7 linked regions of the Homo sapiens genome follow. The protein of the gene in region 1 purifies or fractionates together with the protein of each later gene. This does not show direct contact. Each region holds a gene or a part of one and is shown on either strand. Other genes may lie near its edges.

What was found.
Region 2: the proteins of PTPRU (region 1) and FUT8 purify together in Homo sapiens (affinity purification with mass spectrometry, with the first as the bait; one large-scale study listed by BioGRID). This does not show direct contact.
Region 3: the proteins of PTPRU (region 1) and CSE1L purify together in Homo sapiens (affinity purification with mass spectrometry, with the first as the bait; one large-scale study listed by BioGRID). This does not show direct contact.
Region 4: the proteins of PTPRU (region 1) and UNC45A purify together in Homo sapiens (affinity purification with mass spectrometry, with the first as the bait; one large-scale study listed by BioGRID). This does not show direct contact.
Region 5: the proteins of PTPRU (region 1) and PLOD1 purify together in Homo sapiens (affinity purification with mass spectrometry, with the first as the bait; one large-scale study listed by BioGRID). This does not show direct contact.
Region 6: the proteins of PTPRU (region 1) and MACO1 purify together in Homo sapiens (affinity purification with mass spectrometry, with the first as the bait; one large-scale study listed by BioGRID). This does not show direct contact.
Region 7: the proteins of PTPRU (region 1) and OPA1 purify together in Homo sapiens (affinity purification with mass spectrometry, with the first as the bait; one large-scale study listed by BioGRID). This does not show direct contact.

Annotation. Positions count from the first base shown.
Region 1 is NC_000001.11:29,278,022-29,281,521, forward strand, and holds part of PTPRU (receptor-type tyrosine-protein phosphatase U isoform 1 precursor), read left to right. Parts: intron 1-990; coding exon 991-1,100; intron 1,101-1,434; coding exon 1,435-1,636; intron 1,637-2,017; coding exon 2,018-2,120; intron 2,121-3,500.
Region 2 is NC_000014.9:65,716,730-65,720,229, forward strand, and holds part of FUT8 (alpha-(1,6)-fucosyltransferase), read left to right. Parts: intron 1-3,500. UniProt on the Homo sapiens protein: Catalyzes the addition of fucose in alpha 1-6 linkage to the first GlcNAc residue, next to the peptide chains in N-glycans.
Region 3 is NC_000020.11:49,087,812-49,091,311, forward strand, and holds part of CSE1L (exportin-2), read left to right. Parts: intron 1-197; coding exon 198-295; intron 296-1,435; coding exon 1,436-1,586; intron 1,587-1,726; coding exon 1,727-1,935; intron 1,936-2,930; coding exon 2,931-3,028; intron 3,029-3,125; coding exon 3,126-3,211; intron 3,212-3,500. UniProt on the Homo sapiens protein: Export receptor for importin-alpha. Mediates importin-alpha re-export from the nucleus to the cytoplasm after import substrates (cargos) have been released into the nucleoplasm.
Region 4 is NC_000015.10:90,941,785-90,945,284, forward strand, and holds part of UNC45A (protein unc-45 homolog A), read left to right. Parts: intron 1-652; coding exon 653-821; intron 822-1,127; coding exon 1,128-1,298; intron 1,299-3,107; coding exon 3,108-3,279; intron 3,280-3,500.
Region 5 is NC_000001.11:11,951,717-11,955,216, reverse strand, and holds part of PLOD1 (procollagen-lysine,2-oxoglutarate 5-dioxygenase 1 isoform 2 precursor), read right to left. Parts: intron 2,595-3,500; coding exon 2,482-2,594; intron 388-2,481; coding exon 324-387; intron 1-323. UniProt on the Homo sapiens protein: Part of a complex composed of PLOD1, P3H3 and P3H4 that catalyzes hydroxylation of lysine residues in collagen alpha chains and is required for normal assembly and cross-linkling of collagen fibrils.
Region 6 is NC_000001.11:25,482,897-25,486,396, forward strand, and holds part of MACO1 (macoilin), read left to right. Parts: intron 1-1,219; coding exon 1,220-1,378; intron 1,379-2,716; coding exon 2,717-2,899; intron 2,900-3,500. UniProt on the Homo sapiens protein: Plays a role in the regulation of neuronal activity.
Region 7 is NC_000003.12:193,641,708-193,645,207, forward strand, and holds part of OPA1 (dynamin-like GTPase OPA1, mitochondrial), read left to right. Parts: intron 1-1,057; coding exon 1,058-1,138; intron 1,139-1,267; coding exon 1,268-1,342; intron 1,343-1,665; coding exon 1,666-1,737; intron 1,738-1,820; coding exon 1,821-1,920; intron 1,921-2,267; coding exon 2,268-2,398; intron 2,399-3,500. UniProt on the Homo sapiens protein: Dynamin-related GTPase that is essential for normal mitochondrial morphology by mediating fusion of the mitochondrial inner membranes, regulating cristae morphology and maintaining respiratory chain function.

The sequences.
Region 1 (3,500 bases):
GTTGGCCAGGCTGGTCTCGAACTCCTGACCTCAAGTGATCCGCCTGCCTCGGCCTCCCAAAGGTGCTGGGATTACATGCGTGAGCCACCGTGCCCAGCCAGTTGTCCTTCTTAAGAGCTACACTCGAATGCTATCACAGGTCCAAAGCCTTTCCCTGGGTTCCTACAGATTCCAGTTACCACTAAGCTCCTTGGTTTATGGCTTTGTCTTGCTGCCGCACGTGCACAGTTTTCTGTTCTGCACAGCATTGGCCTAGATTCAAAATTCAGCTCCTTCTTTACTTTCTGCTTTTCTCTGCCTTAGGACTTCAGCTTCCCCATAGTGGTTTATCAAGGTATTTTCCCAAGCAAAGATCATTCTCTTCCTAAATGACACTCCTGTGCCTGCCATTAACAGTATACATTTACACAAGAAAAACAAAACAAAGCCATGCCTGCAAGTGTTAATGCTAAAATGTTAACAGTATCTCTGGGTGATACAATTGTAGATGCCATTAATTTTCTTTAAGCTCATTTTGATTTTCTACATTGAACATGTCATTTATGTAATTAGAAATTTTTAGACGAGAAAATATCGCCACCCATAATCCCAATACCGCAATGCAATTGCTGTTTTCATTTCTCTGGCCCATGTGCATATTTTCTGAAAACTACCCAACTGGAACAAAATTGGAGCCTTCAAACGTATTTCTCTCCTGAATGCAACCTACACAGTAATGAAAATGCCAGCTATCCATTTTGAGTACTTAGTAATAGGTTGAACCATATGCAATTGCTGATGTTTGCCTTGGGGCTTTATGTACATCACATCATTTGAGTCCTGGCTTGAGAGGGGTTATATCATTCCCACTTCACAGCTGAGTTAAGTAAGGTGCAGAGAGGCTGAATAGTCCATGAGAACCAGGTAGGAAGCGGCAAGGCTGGAATTTAAACCCAGGTGTCTGGCACCAAAGCCCACTTTCCCCTGGCCCCTGCTGCCTTTCCCTTGCAGTGCCCAGTGGGATTGCAGCCGAGTCCCTGACCTTCACTCCACTGGAGGACATGATCTTCCTCAAGTGGGAGGAGCCCCAGGAGCCCAATGGTCTCATCACCCAGTATGAGGTGGGTTTGGGACCCTATTACAGTGGGGGACCCTGGTGGAAGGTGAGAGGTGGCCCTCTTTCTCTCTGCTGCTACAGTAGGAGGTGCATGGGAGGACAGATGTGATTGTCATAGTTTCTTCAACTATGGCCAGGTCTGTGCCCTGTGTATTCTAGAGGAGGGTCCTGAAGGCAGGAGGGAGAGCCGAAGATGACTAGAAGCCTGGCTTGATGGCATCCATAGTCTCCTTTGCTTAGCCTTATCTCTCACTTCCCTGGGACATGGTGGGTGGAGGCTGCTGGTCAGGGATGCTCTGACCATCCAGTGCCCACCTGCCTGCCAATCCTGCCCCCAGATCAGCTACCAGAGCATCGAGTCATCAGACCCGGCAGTGAACGTGCCAGGCCCACGACGTACCATCTCCAAGCTCCGCAATGAGACCTACCATGTCTTCTCCAACCTGCACCCAGGCACCACCTACCTGTTCTCCGTGCGGGCCCGCACAGGCAAAGGCTTCGGCCAGGCGGCACTCACTGAGATAACCACTAACATCTCTGGTGAGCCCCACCTGACCCGGCCCAGCCTCTTCGGAGGTGGCCCAGAATCCCAGGGTTCCATGGGCAGAAGGGAAATGGGGGGCATCCTGGGGGTAGTTACAGAGGGCCCCTGCTGAGATAAATATGCCATTTAGGAGTTAAAGTCAGGCTCAGGGAGGATGAAGTCAGAGGAGTCAGGAGACTGGTCAGTGGAATCAGAAGATTGAGGTTGGGGCTGGTGCCTGAGGTCAGGGGCCAGGGTAGCTCAGGTCATGTCAGCAGGAACAAAGAGGCTAAGGCTGAAGTAGGGGAGATCTGAGGACTGTGGTCAAGGAGGCTGGAAGCCTGGTCTTCCTGGTCCAGTGGCCAAGCTCCAGCTTGTGACCCTGTCCCCTTCTCCAGCTCCCAGCTTTGATTATGCCGACATGCCGTCACCCCTGGGCGAGTCTGAGAACACCATCACCGTGCTGCTGAGGCCGGCACAGGGCCGCGGTGCGCCCATCAGGTGGGAAAGCGGGGACGGAGGGGTGGGAGTCCAGGGCCTTAGGAAAGAGGCCCCTCCTCTGACCCAGAGCCCCATCCCAGGCCAGCTCACCCTTTTCCTCCCTCAGTCTCCCACGCAGGGCTTGGAGTGTCTGGAGGAGATTGTTCTGTGATGCTTGGCAGGCAAGAAGCCTGCAGTCCCTCCCCTCTGAGGCCATGGGTCTCAGATGGTGACTGTCAGGAGGACCCTGGATAGGTCCAGCCTGGAGAGGGGACTGTCCAGGCCTGTCCAGGGGGCCTTTCCTCAGACACCTTGGAGAAGTGAAACTCTGGGGGCCTTATATCATCCCAGCCTTTTCCTGGAAGCACAGAGATGGGCTTTCTAGAAGGCTGGGGCAGCCAGCCAGATAGGGCCATCTCTCTGGAATGGCTAGGAGCTTGGCTTCTCCACCTCCTCTCCCCAGAGGAAGCTGGGCTTGCTGGTGCCGTGGTGGCTGCCTCTGCTGGGGAGAGGGTGCTGGAGACAAGACTGTGTGTGTGTGTGTGTGTGTGTGTGTGTGTATGTGGGATGTGAAACTGGGTGTGTCTTTGTGATAAAGACATGGGATGTGTGGTGTGAGTGTGTGTGAGAGGCGTATATGGGAGACATAAGTGTGCATGTGTGTGAGAGTGTGAGGGTGTTTGTGCAACTGTGTGCACGTACTGTTAGCCAGACCCCGTGCTAGGGGCTTTATCTGCATGAAGCCATTTATCCTCATGGCAGCCCTGTGGCATGGGTATTATTACCTTCATTTTACATATCGGGAAACTGACTCAGAGCCTGAATCACTTGCCCTCAAGGCCACACAGCTAGTAAGTGGTGGAGCTGGGATTTGGAAGCCAGGTCTATCTGCTGTGCCTGTACCTTTTCTAGAAGTTATAGAGCCTCCCTGCCCTTCTGGTCCACCCCTTCCTTCCACGAAGGTACATGCTCTGGGAGAGGGTGACAGCCTTTAGGTGGGGGGGGTGTGAGGGTCCTAGTCAGTTCCCTAGGAAGAGAGTGGGCTGCCTGGGTGACCATGGCAGTCCCTCACCTCCTCACTCCCCACTGTATCCTCTCCTCTTCTGCTTTGTCTTCCCTGTATTTGCCACTGCAAATCCTGCCCTGGGCTGATTCCCAGACCCTCAGGGAAGACCCAGGAAAAAGTCACGGGGTCTGCAGGGCCTTTTGCCTGTTGCTAGAGCCTCAGGGCCCTTATGCCACTGAGTCTGGGATGGGTTGGGAACCCTTTCTTTCTTGTCCTCTTGAGGGATCCTGTGAGCAGCACTGGTCAGGGTCCCTCAGGATGATGATTGCAAGGCTAGGTGGGGGCAGGCTTGGTGGGAGGGGAGCGGCAAGATGGCTGCATGACCCTGGGCATGT
Region 2 (3,500 bases), on another chromosome or scaffold:
CGATGGTCGCTGTCTCTTTGGAGCTGTTGGGTACACCTCCCAGATGGGGCAGCCAGGCAGAGGCACTCCTCACTTCCCAGACGGGGCGGCCGGGCAGAGGCGCTCCTCACTTCCCAGACGGGGCGGCCGGGCAGAGGCGCTCCTCACCTCCCAGACGGGGCGGCCGGGCAGAGGCGCTCCCCACTTCCCAGATGGGGCGGCCGGGCAGAGGCACTCCCCACTTCCCAGACGGGGCGGCCGGGCAGAGGTGCTCCACACTTCCCAGACGGGGTGGCCGGGCAGAGGCGCTCCACACTTCCCAGACGGGGTGGCCGGGCAGAGGTGCTCCCCACTTCCCAGATGGGGCGGCCGGGCAGAGGCGTTCCCCACTTCCCAGACGACGGGCAGCCGGGCAGAGGCGCTCCTCATTTCCCAGATGGGGCGGCCGGGCAGAGGCGCTTCTCACCTCCCAGACGGGGCGGCCGGGCAGAGGCGCTCCTCACCTCCCAGACGGGGCGGCCGGGCAGAGGCGCTCCTCACCTCCCAGACGGGGCGGCCGGGCAGAGGCGCTCCTCACTTCCCAGACGATGGGCGGCCGGGCAGAGGCACTCCTCACCTCCCAGACAGGGCAGCCGGGCAGAGACGCTCCTCACTTCCCAGACGGGGCGGCCAGGCAGAGACTCTCCTCACCTCCCAGATGGGGCAGCTGGGCAGAGGTGGCTCCTCACATCCCAGACAGGGCAGCTGGGCAGAGGCGCTCCTCACTTCCTAGACGGGGCGGCCGGGCAGAGGCGCTCCTCACCTCCCAGACGAAGGGCGGCCGGGCAGAGGCGCTCCTCACATCCCAGACGATGGGCGGCCGGGCAGAGACGCTCCTCACCTCCCAGACGGGGCGGCCGGGCAGAGGCGCTCCCCACTTCCCAGACGGGGCAGCCGGGCAGAGGCGCTCCCCATTTCCCAGACGGGGCGGCTGGGCAGAGATGCTCCTCACTTCCCAGACGGGGCAGCTGCCAGGCAGAGGCGCTCCTCACCTCTCAGACGGGGCGGCCTGGCAGAGGCACTCCTCAGTTCCCAGACGGGGCGGCCAGGCAGAGGCGCTCCTCACCTCCTTCTTTGTCCCTTTTTATAGTTTTTTTTTCTTGAAATCTATTTTGTCTATTACAGGTATAGCTACTCCTGCTCTTTTTTGGTTTTCATTGGCATGAAATATCTTTTTCCATCCCTTTATTTTTAGTCTGTGTGTCTTTATAGGTGAAGTATGTTTCTTGTAGGTAACAGATCATTGAATTTTGTGTTTCTTAGCTATTCAGCCACTCTATGTCTTTTGATTGGAGAATTCAGTTTGTTTACATTTAGTGTTATTAATAATAAGTAAGATCTTACTCCTGCCATTTTGTTATTTGTTTTCTGGTTATTTTGTGGTCTTCTCTTCCTTCTTTCCTTCCTTTCTATTTTCCTTTTAGTGAAGGTGATTTTCTCTGGTGGTTTGTTTTAATTTCTTGCTTTTTATTTTTTGTGTATTCATTGTATGTTTTTTGATTTGAGATTATCATGAGGCTTGCAAATAACTTATAGCTCGTTATTTTAAACTGATGACAATTTGGCACCGATTGCATAAACAAACATGCAATCAAAAAGAAGTCTAATAAATACTCTGTACTTTGTCCCCCCAACTTTTTAACTTTCTGTTATTTCTATTTATATCTTATGGTACCAAGTATGTCTTGAAAAGTTGTAGTTATTTTTGATCGGTTCATCTTTTAGTCTTTTACTTAAGATATCAATAGGTTACATACCACAATTACAGTGTTATAAAATTATGTGGTTTTTTGTATGCTTAGTATGACCAGTGAGGTACCTTCAGATCATTTTTTAATTGCCCATTAACACCTTTTTTCCTTCAAATTGAAGGATTCCCCTTAGCATTTCTTGTAGAACAGGTCTGATGTTGATGAAATCTCTCAGCTTTTGTTTGTCTGGGAAAGTCTTTATTTCTTCTTTAAGCTTGAAGGATGTTTTCACTGGATATACTATTCTAGGGTAAAAGTTTTTTTTCCCTCAGTAGTTTATGTCATACCACTCTCTTTTGGCCTGTAATGTTTCCACTGAAAAGTCTGCTGTCAGACATATTGGAGCTCCATGGTATGTTATTTATTTTTTCTTTTGCTGCTTTTAGGATCCTTTCTTTATCCTTGACCTTTGGAAGTTTGGTTATTAAATGCCTTGAATGGTAGTCTTCTTTGGGTTAAATCTGGTTGATGTATAACTTTCTTGTACTTGAATATTGATATCTTTGTCTAGAATTCGGATGTTCTCTGTTTCATCCCTTTGAATAAACGTTCTGTTCCTATCTCTCTCTGCCTCCTTCTTAAGGCCAATAACTGTTAGATTTGCCCTTTTGAAACTATTATTTAGATCTTATAGGCATGCTTCATTGTTTTTCATTCTTTTTTCTTTTGTCTCTGTTGACAGTGTATTTTCAAATAGCCTGTCTTTAAGCTTACCAATTCTTTCTTCTGCTTGATGACTTCTATTAAGAGACTCAGTATGTCAGCTGCATTTTTCAACCCCAGAATTTCTGCTTGATTCCTTTTAATTGTTTCAACCTCTTTGTTAACTTTATCTGATAGGATTCTGAATTCCTTCTTTGTGTTATCTTGAACTTCTTTGCATTTCCTCAAAATAGCTCTTTTGAATTCCCTCTCTGAAAGGTCACATATCTATGTTTCTTCAGGATTTGGTCCCTGGTGCCTTATTTAGTTTGTTTTTCAAGGCCATGTTTTCCTGGATGGTCTTGATGCTTGTGGGTGTTCATTGGTGTCTGGGCATTGAAGGTATTTATCGTAGTCTTCACAATCTGAACTCTTTTGTACCTGTCTTAGAAAGGCTTTCCAGATATTTGAAGGGAGTTGGCTGTTGTGATCCAGTTTTGGTCATTGCAGCCATATCTACATTAGGGGGCACCCCAAGCCCGATAATGCTGTGGTTCTTACAGACTTGCAGAGGTACTACCTTTGTGGTCTTAGATAAGGTCTAGAAGAATTCTCTGGATTACCAAGCAGAGACTCTTGTTCTCTTCCCTTACTTTGTCCCAAACAAACGAGTCTCTGATTCTGTGCTCCAAGCCTCTTGTAGTTGGGGGAGTGGTGACACAAGCACTTTTGTGGCTACCACCACTGGAACTACACTAGACCAGACCTGAAACCAGCATAGCACTGGATCTCACCCAAGGCCCAGTGTAACCCCTACCTGGCTACCTCCTGTGTTGGCTCAAAGTTCTAGGGCTCTATAATGAGCAGGTGGCAAAGCCAGTCAGGCTTTTATCCATCCCTTCAGGACAGCAAGCAAGTTCCCCTGGGCCCCAGGCAGGTCCAGAGATGCCATCTGGGAGCCAGCATCTGGAGTTGGAAACCTTAGAACCCTATCTGGTCCTCTATTCTCCTGCAGCTGAGCTGGCATCCAAACCATAAGGCAAAGTGCTTCCCACTTTTCACTCCTCTTTTCATAGGCAAAAGAGTCTC
Region 3 (3,500 bases), on another chromosome or scaffold:
AATTTTGTTGCCAACCCGTCCTAATTTTAAAAGGAAGGGAAATTTAGATTATTTTTAAATGTAGAGAGCTATCTCGGGGTTGTCTAAGCATCTTAAAATTTAGTTGATGAATTAGTGCGCTTTTTTCCCCCCAGTCGCTCTCTTATTCTGAAGTTTAACTAAACTCTATTTGTTTTTGCTGTTTTTGTATTTTACAGCTATCATGAGAAGTTTTTCTCTCCTACAAGAAGCCATAATCCCCTACATCCCTACTCTCATCACTCAGCTTACACAGAAGCTATTAGCTGTTAGTAAGGTAATAGAGCCAATTTTGAAAGTGGGGTTCCTTTTTTATTTGCTCCAAACTGTTTGGGCCTCAGAACTCTTTGGCATTACGTGAAGCTTTAGAGAAGGTCTGTGAATTCTTCCTGACCAGCCACTAATGGACTTTTCTGAAAGTGTGGGCATGCTGTTAGATTGGAGACGTAATAGCAGTCACCTTTAAGTGTGTGCTAGAAGCTTGAATACATTTTCATTCTCATTACAAAAGTAACATGTTTATTGTAGAAAAAGAAAGTGCAGATGATCCAAAATTACCTTAAATGGAGTTAAGTAGGCTTTGCACTAAATGGATATAAAAGAGGCTGTCTGGACTTCTATGAAATGATGATTAAAATCCTTTGTGTTGTCTTTTCTTCCTTACTCTTATTTCTCAAAAGGAAAGTTCACTCTGATCAAAATTTTACAGATACTTAGATTCATGTTTATTAACACTAAATTTTAGAAAATAAATCCGTTTAAGGCTGACAGAATTCCTTTTTAGATGCTATTCTTGATCTTATGAGAATTAGATCAATTCATAGGAAGTGTTGGAGGGATTTTGGAGAACAGAGTGATTATTATTCAACTGAGTTAGGGCTAAGGGTCTTTGGACTACTTAGGGCCTTGAGGGATGGAGCGGGGAGGGAACCCAAGTCTCCGCCTCCCATATGTATTACCATCTCATGTTCTGATTGAGTTAGATTTGTATGCTAGTAGCCTTCCAAGAACTTGTTTAAAGAAAAATGGGGTTTTGTTGCTTAAAAAGAACATAAAAAACTACTCATTTGGGGGATTATCAGTAAGTAGACATAGACATTGAGGCCCACAGAAGTTAAGGCTAGTGGCATTACTAGGACTTAGTATTTCTTCTCTGCGAGGGCACGTGGGCTTAAGACAAGTTACAGCTCTGGGATCTGAGGTTTGTATAAGCAACTCTGTAACTCTGAAGTATTTTTTTCATGGTGGACTTTGGGCCATTTAAAAAAAAATTCAAATGAACAAGCACTAGGGTATAATTGGTGTTTTTTTCTTAATTTTGATTTTTAAAAAATAAGATGGCCTCTATTTTAAATGTGTTTTATAAAGGTTAGGTGTGGATTATTAGCATAATTAGGTTTTTTTTTTTTAATTTCAGAACCCAAGCAAACCTCACTTTAATCACTACATGTTTGAAGCAATATGTTTATCCATAAGAATAACTTGCAAAGCTAACCCTGCTGCTGTTGTAAATTTTGAGGAGGCTTTGTTTTTGGTGTTTACTGAAATCTTACAAAATGATGTGCAAGGTAAGTTAACGGAAATTATTTTCTTTGTAATGGAATAAAATTAACATGGCTATAAAATGCAGCCCACCTAAGCGATGTGGGCCTTTTGTGTCAGTCATTCCTTCTGAAGCTCACAGCTCTGTTTTTACTTTTATCAACAGAATTTATTCCATACGTCTTTCAAGTGATGTCTTTGCTTCTGGAAACACACAAAAATGACATCCCGTCTTCCTATATGGCCTTATTTCCTCATCTCCTTCAGCCAGTGCTTTGGGAAAGAACAGGAAATATTCCTGCTCTAGTGAGGCTTCTTCAAGCATTCTTAGAACGCGGTTCAAACACAATAGCAAGTGCTGCAGCTGACAAAATTGTGCGTCAGGTTTTGATATAACTGTAATTTTATAAAGTAGCTTGGAGAAACTGGGGATGGCAGATGTTTGAAATTTTTTTATTTAAAATAAATTTAAGGCTGGGGGCAGTGGCTCAAGCCCACCACTTTGGGAGCCTCTAGTGGGAGGATCCCTTGAGCCGAGGAGTTTAAGACCAGCCTAGGCAACGTGGTGAGATCTATCTCTACAAAGGAAAAAAAAGCTTTTTAATTAGTTGGACACAGTGGAGCATGCCTGTGGTCCCATCTACTTGGGAGGCTAAGGTGAGAGGGTCGCTTGAGCCCAGGAGTTTAAGGCTGCAGTGAGCCATGATCTCACCATTGCACTCCATCCTGGGCAACAGAGCTAGACCCTGTCTCTTAAAAAAAATAATAATAATAATAACGGAAATAATTAGTAGAAAATGTTATGGTATGTTTTATCAGAATTCTGTATCCTTTAGTTATTTATATCCATGATGGAAAATTTTAAAAACAGAGCCAAACAGGTTGATTTTAAGAACTTAACTTTGGTCGGGCGTGGTGGCTCACACCTGTAATCTCAGCACTTTGGGAGGCCGAGGTGGGCAGATCACCTGAGGTCAGGAGTTCAAGACCAGCCTGGCCAACATGGCGAAACCCCGTCTCTACTAAAAATAAAAATTAGGTGGGTGTGGTGGCACGTGCCTGTAATCCCAGCTACTCAGAAGGCTGAGGCAGGAGAATCGCTTGAACCTGGGAAGCAGAGGTTGCAGTGAGCCAAGATCGCCCCATTGCACTCTAGCCTGGGCAACAAGAGTGAAACTCCGTCTCAAAGAAAAAAAAAATTACTTTAATGGCTACGCGGGAGGAATTGTTCCCCATATGTTTCAGAAATAATTAAAGAGAAAAGGATAGATTATTACAGTATGAACTCTGTTTTAAGACATATATCATGTTTAACTTTTCGAATAATTATTCCTGTTAACCATTTTCTGTTGGATCTCATTTCTTAACAGCCTGGGTTACTAGGTGTCTTTCAGAAGCTGATTGCATCCAAAGCAAATGACCACCAAGGTTTTTATCTTCTAAACAGTATAATAGAGCACATGCCTCCGTGAGTATGACTAGAACTTTGTGCATTTATTTAGAAATTTTGTTAGGTGCTCAGAAAAGTCCTAAATTTATATTGTTGATTTTTTTTAATTCTTTAGTGAATCAGTTGACCAATATAGGAAACAAATCTTCATTCTGCTATTCCAGAGACTTCAGAATTCCAAAACAACCAAGTTTATCAAGAGTAAGTAAAATCATCTGGATGTTCTACAGAAGTAATGAAAGAAGGTAGCTAAAACCCTTAGACTTTATGGTTGCAGATACATTTTTTATCCGTTTTAAACTTTATGCAAAAAATACTTGGCCACGTGTGGAGGTTCATGCCTGTAATCGCAGCACTTTGGGTGGCCAAGGGAGGCCGATCGCTTGAGCTCAGGAGTTCAAGACCAGCCTGGGCAACATGGCGAAACCCTGTCCCTACGAAAAGTACAACAAAATTAGCCAGGCATGGTGGCATGTGCCTGTAGTCGCAG
Region 4 (3,500 bases), on another chromosome or scaffold:
CCGTCTCTACTAAAAATACAAAAAATTAGCCGGGTGCGGTGGCGGGCGCCTGTAATCCCAGTTACTCAGGAGGCTGAGGCAGGGAAATGGCGTGAACCTGGGAGGTGGAGCTTGCAGTGAGCCCAGATCGCGCTACTGCACTCCAGCCTGGGCGACAGAGCAAGACTCCGTCTCAAAAAAAAAAAAAAAAAAGAAAAAAGAAAGAAACTGGGTGGAGAGGTCTCACGGGCCCATTCCGTGTACGTGACGTCCACATCCCCAGGGTGTGGAAAGAACCTCAGGGTTTAGACTGGGGAAGAACTAGACCATTAAGCCTGGTGGTCAGGTAGCTTCGTCTAGGTATAGGTCTTTTTCTTGGGGAGGCATGAGCTAAGGCAGCTGCTCCCAGGGCTGCAGTATACTATGTCTTCTCTGGCACCAAGGAGAGGTAGTAGGGCATTGCCGTGTAATGTCTCCTTTAGGAAATCTTTCTAACAAAATTATCCTGCCATTACCCTGGGTCATGCCATCCATTCTGTGTTGTTTTCACCTGGAGCTGGGCCTTCCACCCAATTCTCTCCTTCTGGCCGTATCCTCTAACTCACAGTTAGGGATCTCTGTGGCTGCCCTTCAACAACTGGAAGCTTCCTTCTGTTTACCTCTCCCACCCCAGACAGTGGCAACCCTGAGCATACTGGGAACTCGGCGAGTAGTCTCCATCCTGGGCGTGGAAAGCCAGGCTGTGTCCCTGGCTGCCTGCCACCTGCTGCAGGTTATGTTTGATGCCCTCAAGGAAGGTGTCAAAAAAGGCTTCCGAGGCAAAGAAGGTGCCATCATTGTGGGTGAGTGGAAGCAGGTCTGGGGTCTTTTGGACGTTACTGTCATGGAAGGGATGGGGCTGAGCCAGCCAGGCCAGTTTTTTGGGGACCAGACTTGCAGCTGCAGGTTGTTTGGAATACGGTTTGGTGACATTATTTTACTCTAGATTCTCAGCAACCAAGGTGCCTCAGGACAAAGCTGGAGCTCAGTCTGGAGCCTGGGATGCGGATCCCCCCTTCCCTGTGTCTCCCTGGTTTGTTGGAGAAGTTGAAGGGTCAAACTGGGCTGGGCTGCTGTGGAGCCCACTGATGTCTTCTTGTTGTTGCCAGATCCTGCCCGGGAGCTGAAGGTCCTCATCAGTAACCTCTTAGATCTGCTGACAGAGGTGGGGGTCTCTGGCCAAGGCCGAGACAATGCCCTGACCCTCCTGATTAAAGCGGTGCCCCGGAAGTCTCTCAAGGACCCCAACAACAGCCTCACCCTCTGGGTCATCGACCAAGGTAGGTGATATAGTTCACAAAAACTTGCTTCAGCAGCTGAAGTTTGTTTATTCTTAGGAGTAATAAGAAAAGTTGTGAGTGGGGCCAGGCATGGTGGATGACACACTTTGAGAGGCAGGGGGTCACTTGAAGCCGGGAGTTTGAGATCAGCCTGGGCAACATAGCGAGACCCTGTCTCTATGAAAAATTAAAAAAAATTAGCTGGGCATGGTGGTGTGCATCGGCAGTCCTAGCTACTCCAGAGGCTGAGGTGGGAGAATTACTTAACCCTGGGAAGTCAAGTCTTCAGTGAGCTGTGATTGTACCACTGCACTACAGACTGGGCAACAGAGGGAGACTGTCTCAAAAAAAAAAAAAAAAAAAAGAAAGAAAAGTTGTGATTATCTCCAGCCACGTGTCTGCACTGAAGTGCGTCCTGTGGCCCAGGAGGATGCTGGAGCTGAGAAGATCTTCCAGAGCAATGGGATTCAGCTCTTACAACACCTTCTAGACACAAGAGCTACCCTTAGGGGGCTCAAAGTTAGACTCTTCTATCATATGCGTGTGCACATACATGCACATTGAGCGGGCCTGCAAGCAGGTTAGCAGAGAGGCTGGATTAGCTTTCTGTATTTTTTTTTTTTTGAGACAGAGTCTCACTCTGTCGCCCAGGCTGGAGTGCAGTGGCGCGATCTCAGCTCACTGCAGCCTCCGTTTCCCGGGTTCAAGCAAATCTCCTGCTTTAGCCTCCCGAGTAGCTGGGATTATAGGCACGCATCAGTATGCCCGGCTAATTCTTGTAGTTGTAGTAGAGATAGAATCTCACCATGTTGGCCAGGCTGGTCTCGAACTCCTGACCTCAAACAATGCACCCACCTTGGTCTCCCAAAGTGTTGGGATTACCGTCATGAGCCATTGTGCCCTGTTTTTTTTTTTTTTTTTTTTTTTTTGTTTGAGTGAGCATGTATTACTTCTATACTCAGAGGAAAAAATAACGGTAGATATATCAATTCATCTCTCTTTTCCCCTAAAAGATAAATAAGAGCTGGGCGTGGTGCCTCACGCCTATAATCCCAGCACTTTGGGAGGCCGAGGTGGGCAGACCACAAGATCAGGAGTTTGAGACCAGCCTGGCCGACATGGTGAAACCCCGTCTCTACTAAAAGATACAAAAAATTAGCCAGGCATGCTGGCATGCACCTGTAATCCCAGCTATTCTGGAGGCTGAGGCAGGAGAATCACTTGAACTCAGGAGGCGGAGGCTGCAGTGAGCCGAGATCGCGCCATTGCTCTCCAGCCTGGGCAACAGGGCGACTCTGTCTTAAAAAAAAAAAAGATAAATAAGAAAAGCTTTGCAAAGGCCTTGCATGAGCAGGGCCTTTCACAATGGTCCTATGAGGTGTGGATATCGTGTTCACAGTGGTCCCACGAGGTGTGGGTATCGTGTTCACAGTGGTCCCACGAGGTGTGTCTATTGTGTTCACAGTGGTCCTACGAGGTGTGGGTATCGTGTTCACAATGGTCCTATGAGGTGTGGATATTCTTTTCCCCTTAGTTTTACAGATGAGGAACCTCAAAAGCTCCAGAGCGTTTGGCCCCAGGGGCAGGGCTGGCATGCAGGCCTCACTTCTGAGGTCCTTCCCGATCCTACAGCCGCCTCCCTTAGGTAGCAGATCAGCTAAGCAGATTCTCCGGGCTGCCCTGGACACAGTTGTCAGAACTCTGTAGCCTTCTTGTCTTGCTTTTCTCCACATCTCCTAGGAAGCCTGTTTCTTTTACTTGTAGGGGTTGGAACTAGTGTTCTACTGTCTAAGCGGGGTGTCTTTACAGGTCTGAAAAAGATTTTGGAAGTGGGGGGCTCTCTACAGGACCCTCCTGGGGAGCTCGCAGTGACCGCAAACAGCCGCATGAGCGCCTCTATTCTCCTCAGCAAGCTCTTTGATGACCTCAAGTGTGATGCGGAGAGGGAGAATTTCCACAGACTTTGTGAAAACTACATCAAGTAAGGAAGTCTGTTTCACCTCCCGTTGCCAGGGATTCTAGCGAAAAAGTTCTGACTCCTTGAGGAGGGGCAGAAATGAAAGGTTTCCAGCAGAAACAGTAATCTTGGGGAGGACTAGTTGGAGGCTGAACAAAGGGAAAGTGGCCCCAAGGCCCACTTCCTGCTCCAAAGTGGCCTCCGCAGGGAGGTTCTTTCTCAAGTCAATGTTCCAATAATGCAAC
Region 5 (3,500 bases), about 17 Mb from region 1:
GGAAGGTGGGAGGGCCGGGAAAGTGGGGAAAGAGGGCCCACCTGTAAGGACCTGGTATGCAGGGCAGGGGGTCCAGCACCTGCTGTGCGCATCCCCCAACTCCTCCCAGGCTGAATGCTCACTTGTCCCCCGCCCCCAAGAGAGACATGGCTCTGCGCCAGGATATCCAAGTGGCCCCTGGGGACCTGGGGATGAGGCCAGTGACCTCTCAGCACAATGGCCAGAAAGAAGCAGCCCATTTCTCCTCCCTGGGCTCGGGCCCTGCCTGGAATTCTTCCTATCACCCCTCTGAGGATCCACCCCTCCCCGTGGGGGCTGCTCACCCAAGGCTCCATCCAGGTTCTGGAAGATACGGCAGCGGTGGTCCAGGGTGATATTGATCTGCTCCTGCAGGAAAGAAGGTACCAGACTGCAGCAGGGACAGGCCCTGGGGGAGGCTGGGGCTACATCTCACCCAGTGTGGGGAATCTGTCCCCAAGTTCAGCCCTCATTCCCCACACCGACTCTGCCACGTCACATCAGGGCAGCTAGGTGCCCAGAGAAGGCCAGCAGCCAAGCTCCTGGGGTCTACAGTCTAGTGGCTCTACTCACAGAAAACCAGGGACTCTGAACTGGAAGGAATCTAAGAATGCAGCCGGCTCACCTACAACAATGACGGCCGTTAAGAGTAACCAGCACCTGCCAAGCACTCCACTACACGCACATAGCTACTCCAAATATTCTTTTTTTTGAGAAAGAGTTTCGCTCTTGTCACCCAGGCTGGAGTGCAATGGCACGACCTCGACTCACTGCAACCTCCGCCTCCTGGGTTCAAGCGATTCTCCTGCCTCAGACTCCTGAGTAGCTGGGACTACGGGCATGTGCCACCATACCCAGCTAATTTTTTTTTTTTTTTTTTTTTTTTTTGCTAGAGATGGGATTTCACCACATTGAGCAGGCTGGTCTCGAACTCCTGACCTCAGGTGATCCGCCCCCGCCCCCCGCCTCCCAAAGTGCTGGGATGACAGGTGTGAGCCACCGCACCTGGCCGCTACTCCAAATATTCTACACGAGTCGGGTGCGGTGGCTCACTCCTGTCATTCCAGCACTTTGGGAGGCTGAGGCAGAAGGATCACTTGAGCCCAGGAGTTTGAGACCAGCTTGGGCAACATAGCAAAACTTCATCTCTATAAAAAAATCTTAAAATTAGCCAGACATGGTGACGCAGGCCTATAGTCCCAGCTACTCAGGAGGCTGAGGTGGGAGGATCGCTTGAGTCCGGGAGGCTGAGGCTGCAGTGAGCTATGTTTCTGCCACTGCGCATCAGCCTGGGTGACAGTGAGACCCTGTCTCAAATAAATAAATAAACTATTCTACATATATTAATCAATTTAATCCTGACAACATCTCTGTGAGAAAGTATTATCATTATTGCTTTTTTTTTTGAGATGGAGTCTGGCTCTTGTCACCCAGGCTGCAGTGCAATGGCACAATCTCGGCTCACTGCAACCTCCGCCTCCCAGGTCCAAGCAATTCTCCTGCCTCAGCCTCCTGAGTAGCTGGGATTACAGGCACCCACCACCACGCACGGCTAATCTTTATATTTTTAGTAGAGACAGGGTTTCATCATGTTGGCCAGGCTGGTCTCAAACTCCTGACCTCAGGTGATCCACCCGCTTTGGCCTCCAAAGTGCTGGGATTACAGGCATGAGCCACTGGGTCTGGCCCATTATTGCATTTCATAACGGAAAAAACAAGGGACAGAGAAGTTGCCCAATGTCACACAGCTAGTAAATGGTGAGCTGGGATTGGAACCCAGGCAGCCTGGCCCTGAAGTCCTTATTCTGAACCAATGAACAATGCTGCCTCTTTAAGACCCGACAGCCGGGCACGGTGGCTCACGACTGTAATCCCAGCACTTTGAGAGGCCGAGGCGGGTAAATCACCTGAGGACAGGAGTTCGAGACCAGCCTGGCGAACGTAGTGAAACCCTGTCTCTACTAAAAATACAAAAATCAGCCAAACGTGGTGGTGCACGCCTGTAGTCCCCGCTACTCGAGACGCTGAGGCTCGAGAATCGCTTGAACCAGGGAGGTAGAGGCTGTAGTGAGCCGAGATCGCACCACTGTACTCTAGCCTGGGCAATACAGTGAGACTCCATCCCAAAAATAAAAAAATAGGATTAGTGTCCTTATCAATGAGGCCCCAGTGAGCTCCCTACCCCCTTCCACCATCTGAGGACACAGAGAGAAGTCAGCTGTGTCTGTACCAGTTAGAGGGCTCTGACCAGAACCCAACTGTGATCTCACCCTTCCGGCCTCCAGAACCATGAGAAATCCACATCCGTTGTTTGGGAGCCACCCAGCCTATGGCAGTTTGTCAGAGCAGCCTGCATAGACTAAGACACCAACCCAGGGGTTCAGGCCTGAGAGGAGCTGTTCCCGTGCAGCCTGGCCGGTGGATCCCCAGCCCCCTCTCCTTGGCCCGCCCACTGCCTCTTACCCTCTTCTCCGGGTCCAAGAAGATCTTGGTGTAAAACAGCTGATCGCTGTCGCTGTCCTGGCCCTCCCACTCGGCCACCAGTTTGCTGAGGTTGGGGGCATAACCGATGAAGCCTGAAGGTTGGTGGGTGGGGACACCAAGACGGACCCTTAGCTTCCAGCCTCTAAGTCAGGGGCCTCCTCCCACCCTTCCCTCTTATCCACCTCCACTCATATGCCCACAAACCCTGTCACCTCTCAGAAGTCCTCCTGAATTGACAGGAGGTGGGGCTGCAGGTTGGAAATGGGGCTGCCAGTGAATGTCACTTATTAATGAGTTCCTAATGACCCCAAGAATAAGACCAATGGTGCCCACTAAGCTGTACTGTTCAGTGCTGGGCACCATATAGGTGGTGAAGAAACGGATTGTACGAGGAGCCCCTGGAGAGCAGGGCTGGGAGGATACAGGCCTGGTGTCCCTTTTTACAGTTATCTGGGAAACCTGGCCCAGAGAAGGGAAAGGCTGGGCCAAGCTCACAGAGTGCCTTGGGGGCTGAGACCTGGCATAGTGGGGAAGCCCACATGGGCCCCTGGCTAGAGTACAGACTGGTGACAAGCAACCACAAGAGCAATGGGACATCCCTACTCCTGGGCCTGGGCCAGGGCAAGGCCATCTGGACTGTGCTTACTCTGGACCAGTGGAAAAAAGTGTCTGTTGAGGGCAGATGGCAGATCCCCATCTAAGGTTGAAAAGAGGCCTGTGGATTTTATTCTCCGTGCAGTGGAAAGTCATTAAGTGATGTGTGTGAATTTGCATCTTTATTTATTTATTTATTTTTAAGACAATGTCTCGCTCTGTCGCCCAGGCTGGAGTGCAGTGGCACGATCTCGGCTCACTGCAAGCTCCGCCTCCCGGGTTCATGCCATTCTCCTGCCTCAGCCTCCCGAGTAGCTGGGACTACAGGCGCCTGCCACCACACCTGGCTAATTTTTTGTATTTTTAGTGGAGACGGGGTTTCATCGTGTTAGCCAGGATGGTCT
Region 6 (3,500 bases), 3.8 Mb from region 1:
TTGTTATTATTCCTTCTGGCATATATTTAATCATGGCCTTCCTTGTCTTATTGTTTAATCATTTAAATTATGTATTTCTTGGTTCCTATTTCTTTGTTCCTAATTGTGAAGTTTTCCCATGAAGAAAGAGACTTGATTTTATAGTTTTCGTTTGTTTGTTTTTTGTTTTTTGAGACAGAGTCTCACTCTTGTCACCCAGGCTGGAGTGCAGTGGCATGATCTCAGCTCACTGCAACCTCCACCTCCTGGGTTCAAGTGATTCTCCTGCCTCAGCCTCCTGAGTAGCTGGGATTACAGGCACGCGCCACCATGCCCAGCTAATTTTTGTACTTTTAGTAGAGATGGGGTTTCACCACGTTGGCCAGGCCGGTCTTGAACTCCTGACCTCAGGTGATCCGCCTGCCTCGGGCTCCCAAAGTGCTGGGATTACAGGCATGAGCCACTGCGCCTGGCCGATAGTTTTTGTTGACCATTTTCAGCACTACATATGCATAGTAGGTCTCCAATACCTGTCACTTAAAGTGAAACTATTACTGCAGTAAAGAAAATAGATGGAACAAGAGTAAGGAATTGACGAGAAAAGATAGGCTTCATTTTACAGATGGAGTTCTCTTATGATTCTTAGAGCATGTAATTTGTTCCTTTTTTCATTGTTATTGAGTCTCGTGAGCTCTTCTGCCGCAATCACCAGAGTTGTGAACGTCATTCAGCAAGGATGCTGCAATTTCTGGAGGTCGTCGCAGACCGTTTTCTTCTAGGCCCATGGTGGGACGCAGTCTCAGACAGTAGATTCTGATTTATCAAAATATCACAAAGCATTAAGTGGTAGGTCATGTGCTAGTTGTTTGAACATATTTCCCTTGCTGAGGGCATGAAAAGCCACCAGAAGGGAGCCTTTAGTCTTCAGCCACCCTCTCTGCTGTCCCTTTCTCCTTTATCAGCAGCTCGGATGGATATTCACAAGCACCATACTCACCTGTCACTATTCATAAACAGGGGGAAGTTGAAAGTTACACCCCAGTAGGAAGAGGTAGGGACCCAGGTGGAATCATTCAACAAAATTAACCCAGTTGCAGACAGGAGTCCTCATCATGGCAGGAACTGCCAGCGGGGTCCTTTTTCTGCCATTCACCCAGCAGTCCAGGACCCCCACCAGGTCCCTCCCAGCTCTGTGGGTGCCCTCACCTAGATGAAAATGCTGCATTTCTCATTCTCCTAGGCTGGAACAAGACATTAAAAAGTTAAAGGCTGACCTGCAAGCCAGCAGACAAGTGGAACAAGAGCTCCGCAGTCAGATCAGCTCCCTTTCGAGCACCGAGCGAGGGATCCGCTCAGAAATGGGCCAGCTTCGGCAGGAGAACGAGCTGCTGCAGAACAAGTACGTGCACCTTTCAGGCCTTTGGCCGTAAGCCCGGCAGCTTCACTGCTTCTCCTGTTGCCAGGGGTTGGAGCACAAGATTTATGGTGACAGAGACCTGCTGAGAGGTTTTTAAATAAAATGTTTAAAATACTTTATTTAGTACCAGATATTCAACATGTTTATAAAATCTATAAAAACTTATTTCATTGCCACAAAACAGTTTATTAATATTACTGTTTTTGTCTTCTCTCATTTAATAACTTCTTAGTTTAAAATAGTTATTGAGTTTTTGGATAGTAAAATTGACAAGAAGTAGTTCTGTCACATTTTGAAAATTTTGCTCCTTTGAGTGAAAATTTCTAGAGGATTTGACTATATTTACTTTTATTTCCAGAACTAAAAGATGACATTGAACTTTGATTTTATTTGAAAAGGCAGGCAGAAAGCCAGGTCTTCTGTGTGAATTCATTTAGGCTTTTGATTAGTTCATTCTGGAATTACTTCTTAACTCAGTGTAGGTCTGTCCTTTTTTCTTTTTTTAAATCTCCCAGCAATGTGTGCCCGTGGTAGTGATGATCATTACAGGCTGTTGGCTTTCTGGGCTTTCCCTGTTGAAAGAGGAGTTCAACATTTTTAAGGAATGTAACTCAAAAGCTAGGGCATTACAGGCAAATAACCTCTCCATTGCCTCTGACCAGCATTTGTGGTGGTTCTAGCATTGATATGTAGAGAACATCCCAGTGATAAACTCACCTCATGCTGATAGGTAAAGCTGGGGGTGGTAGTAAGCAGGAAATATGGCTGAAATTTCTATCTGAAATTAAGCATCCTGTGACTCTAAAAGAGGATTTGGGGACACTGTGAGCAAACATCCTGAGCTGGAAAGGAAAAGCTGTAGTAGGCTACAGCAAAATTGTATTCAGGAAAAATAAAAACCTTCCCCTTTCCACCCCTTACCTTAGTTTCACTGGGGCTGGTCCCATCAGTGGTTCTTTGGTGGGACTGAAGTTCTTTCAGGGTGCTCTGGAACATTAGAATTAGTTCTACAATTATCTTCCCCTCTGTTCAAAATTTGTTTTACCCTGTTTTCTGGATGACCTTTTGTAGATCACTTACTTGAACAGAGCAGAGGCTAGGTCTTAATCTCTGTTTTGTAAGGCAGCTTGTTTATTGGTGTTTAGGAATTATTAAAGAATAACAGTGTGTTTTCCTCAGGCATTCTGGGCATTGACATTTTTGATTTGCTGTTCAAACCTCCTGTTTAATTGGCCTTAAGGTGATAAAGAGATGTTTCTCAAGGGTTTATAGTGGGCATTTGTAATTTTAAGACTTTATATGACAATCATTTCCATATAGGTTACATAATGCTGTGCAAATGAAGCAAAAAGACAAGCAGAATATCAGCCAGTTGGAGAAAAAGCTAAAAGCTGAGCAGGAAGCCCGAAGTTTTGTAGAGAAACAGTTAATGGAAGAGAAAAAGAGGAAGAAGTTAGAAGAAGCCACTGCTGCCCGGGCTGTTGCGTTTGCTGCTGCATCTAGGTATGTCCATGTCACCTGAGTGTTTAATCCAAGGTTGGCTTTCCTTTACCAACAAAGACATGGGAATTTGGTGCCTTGGGCAGGATTGGACGTACAGCAATCATGCACGGATGGATTGCTTTTAAGTACTGTTTTATTAACTGGTTTAAACTCCATGTGTGCAAGCTTGCACTATCTTATAACAGCTTTATCCCTCAGTGACCTCATCTATAAAGTGGGATGAGGGAATCACCATGTTTCCCATACCTGGGAGGCAAAGTACTGCTCATAAAAAGGTTTCCAGTCACTTTTTGTCAGACTGATGATTACTAAATGCATTGAGAGATTCTATCTGGAAGTTCGTTCCCTTTAGAGAGCTATCATTACTCTCCACTCTTAGGTATATGTGTTTCTGAAGTTTTTATCTTAAAATGGAAGAAAGATAAAATCTTGGTTGCCCAAGCACTGTGTACTGGCTGCTCAAATGGATATCAGCAAACTGTCAAATGAAATGGAAAAAAAAAGTGAAACATAAGTCTCTACTAGATGGAATTACATTTATGGCATAATGAAAATTGGGGACTACCTCCTATACCACTGGAAAGTACCCCTGTGTGCAAGT
Region 7 (3,500 bases), on another chromosome or scaffold:
CTCAGTAGAAGGAATTGTATTTTTAAAGTAAAATAACTATAGAGAAGCTAGAAAGGTGTCAATTAGGCATTTAGAAGTTCTTGTGAAACCACTGACTGTTAATATACATTGCTATAACATTTCTTGGCTGGGTGCAGTGGCTCATGCCTGTAATCCCAGCACTTTGGGAGGCTGAGGAGGGCGGATCACCTGAGGTCAAGAGTTCAAGACCAGCCTGGCCAACATGGCGAAACCCTGTCTCTACTAAAAGTACAAAAAACTTGCCAGGTGTGGTGGCGGGCATCTGTAATCCCAGCTACTCGGGAGGCTGAGGCAGGAGAATCACCTGAAACCGCGAAGTGGAGGTTGCAGTGAGCCGAGATCATGCCACTGCACTTCAGCCTGGGCGACAGAATGAGACTCGGTCTCAAAACAAACAAAAAAACAAACAAAACAAAATTTCTTACCCAAATATCACTCCTTGAGTGAAGCCTGTCGTAGCTCCCTTATCATCAGTTCCATTCTCTTCTGTGGCACCCTAGGTTTTGTCACTCTCTTCTATTATGTCTGTGTATATTTCTCCCAGCATGTGATGAGGTCTAAAACTGGGACAGTCAGCTCTGTGTTTCCCCACCTACAACACCTGACACATAGTTCACTCTCTATAGAGGTTGAATGAATGAATTGTCCTTTACCTAAATTCATCTTTGAGGTTAAATGCAAGGTTTCCTTTTAGTGTTTCAAGTTTTAGAGAGATGATTTTGGGCTTAGTGCTGTGTATAGCATTGACTGGGGAAAGAAAGAGGCAGCAGCATTTTAGGTCATAAGCGATATAAAGGAACCAGCATTCTTGTTGGGAAATCACAACATATATGACATATATACAAACAATACAAATACAAAATTATTGTCTTGTCAGAACTACCATGTTGACAGCTTCAGGGGGTGCCCCAGCAGTAGTGTGAAGGGACTCTTGGATTTGTGCAATGCAGTAGCCCTGTCTAGACCACATACGGGCTGTGGGAATTAATATTACTTATAAATACATCATTACCTCTCAGTTTTCTGTTACTATCAGGTGACTCTGAGTGAAGGTCCTCACCATGTGGCCCTATTTAAAGATAGTTCTCGGGAGTTTGATCTTACCAAAGAAGAAGATGTAAGTAAAATTCATCTAAGGTTGATATGTGTAATTTTATAACCTGGATGAGCTTATAAAAGACAGTTAAAGAATATTTGTGAATTAAGATTTTCTTAGATTTTCTTAGGATTTTGTGTTTTCCATTAGCTTGCAGCATTAAGACATGAAATAGAACTTCGAATGAGGAAAAATGTGAAAGAAGGCTGTACCGTTAGCCCTGAGGTAAGGGTTGCAATTCATTTCAGTGACGTTTTATGGAAATTAAATGTTTATGATTTCAAATAAATCAAAATCTAGGTATTGATGTTTAGATTGCTGCTATCTAGATATGTAGAGCTTTTAAAAAAAAATCCAAATAATATATCATTTTGTGGGTAATTTTCCAGAATAATTACTTTTAGGATCAGAGAAAGAATACCATTTTTGTGAGCGTCTTATCTGAATGGATGAGATATAGAATTTTTAGAATACATTTCACCAAAAAAAATTCTTGACAAATTCCCCCCAAACTTTAGCATTGTTTTATTTTTATTTTTCCTGAGTAGACCATATCCTTAAATGTAAAAGGCCCTGGACTACAGAGGATGGTGCTTGTTGACTTACCAGGTGTGATTAATGTAAGTATATACAAAACATGTATTTTATTTTATTCTTATTGTGTGAAGCATTTATAATGACATTTAAAACCTTTTTCTTTAAGACTGTGACATCAGGCATGGCTCCTGACACAAAGGAAACTATTTTCAGTATCAGCAAAGCTTACATGCAGAATCCTAATGCCATCATACTGTGTATTCAAGGTAAATCATATCAAAAGATTTTAATGTACTGATATGTTTTCTTCTTTAGCAATCCAAGCTTTGCATTAAATAGTTTGTGTTATGTAAACATACAAGATAAATGCATTTTTGCCTTCTCTTCGTATTCATTTTATTAGTAAATTAAATTGAAGTTGAAATTATTTTGATAAGTTTTACATAAGCATCATTGAAATTTTTATCGGCTAGGATTTCTTTTTAGTAAATAACGTAAATGTATTAAAATCTTTCTTGCTATAATGTAGACACAGGGGTATAATTTGTACTGAGTTTTAAAAGTCTACTTTACATCTTAAAATTCCACAGTGTCATTTTTTTATTTTTTTCAGATGGATCTGTGGATGCTGAACGCAGTATTGTTACAGACTTGGTCAGTCAAATGGACCCTCATGGAAGGAGAACCATATTCGTTTTGACCAAAGTAGACCTGGCAGAGAAAAATGTAGCCAGTCCAAGCAGGGTGAGGTCAAATTCTTTGTTGCGAGAATAGATTCTTTGTAAAAGCTCCAGCTGTGATAGGGATTTGTTATTTAAAAAAACAACAACAACAACAAAAAAACACCTTACAACTAAGATTTATTACAATGAAAGGATAAAGCAAAATCACAAAAGGAAATGGTACATGGTATGAAGTCTGAAGGAAACCAGGCTCACGTTTTTCCACTAGTTCATTCCCAGTAGACTCTACTGGGCACATTTAATTCCTCCAGCAACAAGCTGCTTGTTAGAGACTCAGCTCCTAAGGTTTTCATCGGAGGTTAGTCATTTCGGCACCCTCATGTACCAAAATTATTTCATACTCCCAAAAGGAAAGCATATGTTATAATTAAACCACATTACTTCAGTAGTGAGCCACTGTTATATAAGGAAAGGTTTATATCAGTGTAGGGAACTGTTTACCAGTTAAGTTTTCAGATACCAGCCAAAGACAGGCAGGCCTTTTTAAGGACAGTAGTCTCAGGCCTGCTGTGTTAACCCTTTTCTAGGTAGCCACCATAACCTCTGTTCTGCTTTCTTTTTAAGGGTAAGGCCTGCCGTGGCATTAATGGTTCTGATATGGAGAAGGGGAGAAGTGAGGTAGAAACAAATTTCTGTGGCCTCCTCCCCATCTTTCTTCATTCCTTTCATTTCTTTCAACTCTAGGATAGTGAGTTTATATTTCTTCTGAGATGCAACTGAAGCTTATTTCAGTCCTTTTTGTATAAAAGATTCAGCATTAGCTTAGGTGTAACTTGTCTTAAAGGAGGGATTCTCATCCCATTATTAATCTGAATGGGCTTCAGGGGGTAGAAACTCTAACATATGTGAAAGGTCTCTATGCAAATATGCATTTTTCTGGGTACATAGTCTTTTTTTTTTTTTAGTCACATTTAGAAATGGATTTTTGATCCTAAAAGAGTTGAGAAGCAGTGGATCCAAATATTAAAGAAGAAGGTGGGAGGGGAGGAAGGAGTAAAAGAAGACAATCCAGCTTGGTTAGAATTTAGATATTTGAAGAAAGTATGGAAAAATAATAATAGCTACCATTTATTGAGTGCTTCATGCCTGGCACTGTATCATAT